2 linked regions of the Homo sapiens genome follow. The protein of the gene in region 1 purifies or fractionates together with the protein of each later gene. This does not show direct contact. Each region holds a gene or a part of one and is shown in the gene's direction. Other genes may lie near its edges.

Evidence for each region. The genes of interacting proteins can lie anywhere in the genome.
Region 2: the proteins of SCARA5 (region 1) and UST purify together in Homo sapiens (affinity purification with mass spectrometry; one large-scale study listed by BioGRID and IntAct). This does not show direct contact.

Annotation. Positions count from the first base shown.
Region 1 is NC_000008.11:27,881,174-27,884,673, reverse strand, and holds part of SCARA5 (scavenger receptor class A member 5), read left to right. Parts: intron 1-3,500. UniProt on the Homo sapiens protein: Ferritin receptor that mediates non-transferrin-dependent delivery of iron. Mediates cellular uptake of ferritin-bound iron by stimulating ferritin endocytosis from the cell surface with consequent iron delivery within the cell.
Region 2 is NC_000006.12:149,074,760-149,077,490, forward strand, and holds the end of UST (uronyl 2-sulfotransferase), read left to right. Parts: 3' UTR 1-2,231; downstream 2,232-2,731. UniProt on the Homo sapiens protein: Sulfotransferase that catalyzes the transfer of sulfate to the position 2 of uronyl residues in glycosaminoglycan chains. Has mainly activity toward iduronyl residues in dermatan sulfate, and weaker activity toward glucuronyl residues of chondroitin sulfate.

The DNA of each region.
Region 1 (3,500 bases):
AAGTCAGGGAGTCTCCGACCGTCTACCTTGGCTGCCTAGTCACACCCAGTCACACTCTTCCTGTTGTTTTGACCCCACACCTGACTTCTGCCTGGCCTGCTCTGTGACTCACAGCACCCTCCTGCCACTTCTTGCCCTACTTGCTGACCCCACACTGTGGCTTCTGTTGCAGGCCTCCTGGTGCAGCCAGAGGTGAGGCAGGTCTGTGAGAAACCAGGGCTGACAGCCTGGCCTCAGCCAACCCAGGGCCAAGGCCCCGCGCAGCGGCCGGGTCCCTCTTGGTGCTGCTGGCTGCAGGTTAGCCTGTCCTTACTGCTCCCGGGGAGTTTCTTGGTGTCAGACCCAGCCTCTGAATTCCAGCTCTTCTCCATGTTTTTCTTCTCCAGGATCTCTCTGTTGTCTTGCATAGCCTCAGCCTGTTTGGGGACAGCCTGAATGAGTTTGTATTTGCAGTCTGTGTGGGGAGAACGGTCACCTGGCCAGGGATGAAGGATCCGCAGCAAATACATCCAATATCGAGAGGAGGCATCCCTGGTGCTCTCGCTGTAGTCTTTAGCATCATTCCTGGGGTTGGGGTCGCTTCCTGGTGGCTTCCTCGGTTCCTCTGCAGAATTTTCTGGGGTTTTCTTGGCCCAGGCATGTGGCCAGTTCTGAGTTCTCTCCTTTCTCATGGGGCACAGATGTCAATTCTGCCATCTCCTTCGGGACCTATGAAAGTCTTTGCCAAGTCACAGTCATTAAAAGGAGGCTCCTTCCAGCCCACTTGGCCAAATACAAGATAAAGGAAAAACAAAAGTCCAGGAGTGCCGCGCTTATTAGTAGCAGGGCTTGAGTAGGTTTGTTATTTTCTCTGGCAGTTCACATGGGCATTTTCCTGCATTGTGTCACCCACTTGTCACTGGGTTCCAGTACAATGTCCACCCCTACCCCACATGACACCAGTGGATTCTGGCTTTAAAAAGAGATGACCCTGATTTCTTCTCTGGCCTTGGATTACTGAGGGTTGGAGCTAGAAGGAACCTTGCTGATTGACCCTCTAATCTAAATGCCAGTCCACAGCCCACAAACCAATTGTTCTGAATTATTTGGGACACTTGGAAAAATAGAGATCCCTCACTCTTGCCACCAAGATTCTCTTTCAGTAGGTCTGGATTGGCCGTGGAATCTGGTGTTCCTAATGATTTTGATAAGACCCACTGACCACTCCAGTATCTTATCAAGTGAGGATGCTCAGGTCCCAGCAGGGGAAATAGCCCCCAAGAGTAGTGGGGCGGGCAGGATGGTGAAAAGGATGTGGGAAGACACATAAGGAAACGCAAGCTGTGATCCCAGCTCTGGCACTGACCATGTGTTTCACCCTGAGACTATGACTTCCCAGCCAAACCCTGGCTTTGTGATGATCCAAAGGCTTCTTTCAGTTGCTCTGGTGTTCTTTGGGTCCCCAACATTTCCCCTTGGAGAACCAATGCATTGTAATGCTCAGGAATGGCTCTCTACTACATTCTGCAAACATTGATTTTTCATTTCCTCCAGCCAGGCTGTGTGCCAAGCACTGAGTTTAGAGATCAATGTGACAGGGGCTCAGCCCTCAGAGAAGGGGGAACAGACCCACATTGCTGATGTTTCCATGGGCCAGGATTGTGCCCCAGAGCCCTTTTAGCTTTGTTGCATTTTGTTTGCATGACAGTCCTGCAGTGTAGATGTTGTTCCCATGTCGCAGTTGGGGAAATGCCTTTAGAGAGGTTGTGAGGCTACCTTAAGGTCATTCAGGTCGAAAGGGCCTATTATGTGCCAGGTGCTATTCTGAGTTCTTCACATCTATTACCATGTTTCATTGATTCTGTGACACACATTTATATGTCTGTGAAATCAGGAAGCACCTGGCACTTGATATAATTTGCCACCTACCCAGCAGAGATTTTTCCTTCTTAGTGGCATATAAAACAGGCGCCCATTACAACAGGTGGCATCTCAGATTTGATGAACCAATGTGTCTCACAGTTGCAGATAGTAAGTGGCAGAACCAGAATTCCCAACTGGCTCTCTCTGGCTTAAAGCACTTTCACACTCACAGCCTAGTGGGAAAGTGAACATGAATGACCAAATCAGGGCTGAGACACTTCCCGGGACACAGCCATGCTACCTGCCCACAAAGTCTTAACCATCCTTGGCTTCCTATTTCTCCTACACCCTCCTCCCTAGCAGGCAAGGCTGCTGGTCACCGGGTCTCAAACAGTGGAGAGAAATCTGGTAATCACACTCCTTGATATTTACCCAAATGAGCTGAAACTGACATCCACATGAAAACCTGCACATGGATATTTATAGCAGCTTTATTCATCCAGGCAAAAACTTTGAAGCAACCAAGATGTTTTTCAGTAGGTGAATGGATGAATAAACTATGGTGCACATAGAAAATGGAATACCATTCAGTCCTAAAAAGAAAGGAGCTATGAAGCCATGAAAAGACATGAAGCAACCTTACATGAAGGTTCACTTACTTATTACTAAGTGAAAGATGCCAATCTGAAAAGGCTGCATACTGTATGATTCCAACTATGACATCCTGGAAAAGGCAAAACTACGGAGAAAGTGAAAAGATCAGTGGTTGCCAGGGGTAGGGAGGAGGGAGAGATGAATAGTCTCACTGAATAAGTGGAGCACAGAAGATTTTTAGGGCAGTGAAAAGATTCTGTATGATATCGTAATGGCGAATACACATTATTATACATTTGTCCAAACCCATCGCATGTGCAGCACCAAAAGTGAACCCAAATGTAAATTGTGGACTCTGGGTGATGACGAGGCATCAGTGTAGGTTCATTGAGTGTAACAAATGCACCACTCTCAGGGGATGTTGATAATGGGGGAGGCTGTGTGTAGAGGGAGGGGTGTTGTATATGGGAATTTTCTGTACCTTTCAATCAATTTTTCTGCGAACCTAAAACTGCTCTTTAAAAAAGGCTATTTTATTTTATTGTTTATTATTTCAACTTTTATTTTAGATTCAGGGGGTACATGTGCAGGTTTATTACCTGGGTATATTGCGTGATGCTGAAGCTTGGAGTATAGATGATCCTGTCATCCAGGTAGTAAGCGTAGTGCCCAGTAGTTAGGTTTTCAACCCTTACCCCTCTTCTCCCCTCCCCCATCTTGTATTCCCACCCCCACCCCTGTGTTTAGCTCCCACTTAAAAGTGAGAATATGAGGTATTGGTGTTCTGTTCCTGCATTAATTCACTTAGGATAATGGCCTCCAGCTGCATCCATGTTGCTGCATAGGACATGACTTTGTTCTTTTTTATGGCTGCATAGTATTCCATGGTGTATATGTATATGTACCACATTTTCTTTATTCAATCCGCTGCTGATAGGCACGTAGGTTGATTTCCATGTCTTTGCTATTGTGAATAGTTCTGCAATGAACATATGAGTGTATGTGTCTTTTTGGTAGAATGATTTATTTTCCTTCAGATGTACACCCAGCAATGGGATTGCTGT
Region 2 (2,731 bases), on another chromosome or scaffold:
GAGGATCTCCATGGGTAAGTGGTTTCTACCCGCATGGGTAGAGTTCTGCCTCTGGTCCTTCTCAGGGGGCACTTTCACCAAGAGCAGTGTAATTATCTCTGAAAGAGCAAGTCAGCTTGTGCCGCATCCCCAACCAATCCACAGCCTGGAGTACCTTTCAAGGTCAAAGTGCATGGCCAGCTCCATTGAGACATTCCATTTCAAAGCACCGTGCTGACAGATATCAAAGTACTCTAGCAGGGAAAATAATTTGTTTGCTGTGTAAGGAAGAATGTAGACAAGACAGATAAATCTGAAGGTCATGTGGCATCAGGGAAAGGGCATGGCTGTGTCTTTTGCACCCAATATGAAACATCTTCTCCCAACACTGCTTTAATGGAAGTTCTAGGAACCAATTTAGCTCAGGCATTTGACTCCTACAGCAGAAGTTCTGAGCCTGACCACAGATGGTGTGTAATCTATCAAACACACCCCTGGCCAAGTTGGGTCCTATAGGACCTGGTACTATGTACTATTGTAACTTCTAGTTCCCTAAGAGGTACCTGTTTTCAGTAAAAAGGGGTCCTGAGTTCTGTGCAGGTGGAAGAGCTACCCGAGAACTACCTGAGTTCTGTGCAGGTAGAGTCCCATTTCTTATGGGACCTGTGTGCTCCTGAGAACTCTTACTTGAGACATCAAAAAGAAGCAGCAAGAGCTTCTGGGACAGAGACTGCTTGGCCAGCTTTGTAAGTAAGTGGCTGCCTCCAATGTGATGTGAGTACATGTTGGGCAGTCTCACTGTCCTAAGGTATGTCTTCTTTCCACCTCCCACTGCCCCTCCCCTGCCACCTATCAATGATGCCTTGGTTCAGTCATTAGAAATCTGTTGCTTTGAGTTCTGAAATATTTTCACCTTAAAAAAAATGCTGAAAATACACATTCTCCTGGGAAGACGATAAACAGCTAGCTAAGAAGCCGAGGTTCAGTGGTGGCAGCAGGAAGGACACTGCCACAAATTTTGTCTATTTCATATTTGTCCCCTAGAGCCAGCCCTAGCAAATGTGTGAGTTGGGAGTAGTTAATAGTAAATAAGACTCTGACTTTACACAAGCTACACATTTTATACTTTTCATAAACCACAAAGTCTCTCTAGAATTTTTTCTGCCTTCACTAAAATTGGACTGTAGCCAAGATATAAAGCAAGTCATTTGGAACCTGCCGAGTGAGCACTGAAGCTACTTTATCATGAGATGTGTGTTAAGAAGGCTGCAGCCCACAGGAGTCCAGGGAAGGCGGGGACCACAGAGGCACAGAGTCCAGCACTTGGCCGCTCATGGGCCTTCTTTCTGCCTCAGAGGACGGGGGCAGAGAAGTGATGAAGGGAAATGTTCTTAGAGGAGGAAATATCCTTTGTCCTGTTCAGAGAGACCAGGGCCCTACCATTAGGCATACTTTCAGAAGCAACCTGGAGAACAGCTATCAATCATATTCAAAACCAGTACAAGAACTGCTGCCTGGTACCCTGTGAGTCATTTCTATGAAATTCCATATAAAGAATGATGATAAGTTTACACACTGTGCAATCTCACAATCTGAAAATAAAGTTGAGTTGGCTGTGTTTTCTCTGCTCTTGTCAGAACATTGGGACAATTGGTCGTTCAAAAACATTCATCCTCTTACTGCAAGTTTATCTGGGTACTTTTACCTGTGTGTTCAAAGGCATTTCTTTTCAGCAGTGATCATTATAACTTCACAAAAAAAGATGCTGACGGATTTACTTACAGGGCCTTAATGTTATTTTGTCCCAGCCAACACCCTCTAGGTCCTAAAAGTCAAGGTACTTCAGTTTATTTGGCAAACATGACAACATTTTTTTTGGCCCTGGGCCCAACAGTTTGTACTTCATGAAACATATTGTACATTTTACATAGTTTAATTTAAAAAATACCTTTTAAGCTAGTTGATCTTTGACTGTCTTATTTATTATAACCTTTCAGCACATTCCAAGGTTTTAGTTACTCAGGAAGGAGTTAATTAAAATGATTTTATTTTGGTCTGATGGATGTTTTTTAAAAGGAAAATTATTATTATGAACCTTCAGCCTACTTTCTTGAGTGCCGTAAAAGTGCTTGTAAATCTTTTTTTTTTTTTAAGAAGAAAGAAAAAAATGGTGTTTGACGTTGATGGAAATTCAAAAATATATATGGAACTGAAACATTAACTTAGCTAAAATAAAAGCAATCTGTGTTTGAGATGAAGCATTCCTTAACTTATTCATCACCCATATAAATAAATAAATATAAATAAGTTGACATATTTCTTCCATCCTGTTGACAGCTGGAAATAAAAGTGCCTGCAGTTCCTCCCCTCAGCCTTCTTAATTGGCCAAGCTTTTTTCCTCAAGATGGGATTTTGAAAAGCTGTATTTTAAAAAGTGTATCAATTTTCATTCGTGTAATTATATGACAGCAAAAAAAAGGGGGCTGATAAAATGAACTAGTCATTTACTCATGTTGTTGCATATTTTAAAAAGCAAACAGGTGATTTTATCAGTATTTCCACGGTTGGTTTCATGTCGGGGTGCTACATCTGAATCATCTGTCTCTGTTATCCAGCATCTACGGGGCATGTCTACCGTCAGATAGGAAAGGAAGGATGTGCCCCAATTCTCAGTGTCTACGATGATCTGTTTCTCAGACATGCAGCACTTCAAAACCTGGACCACTCTAAGCTCTCAAGTGAGTAGTCTTGA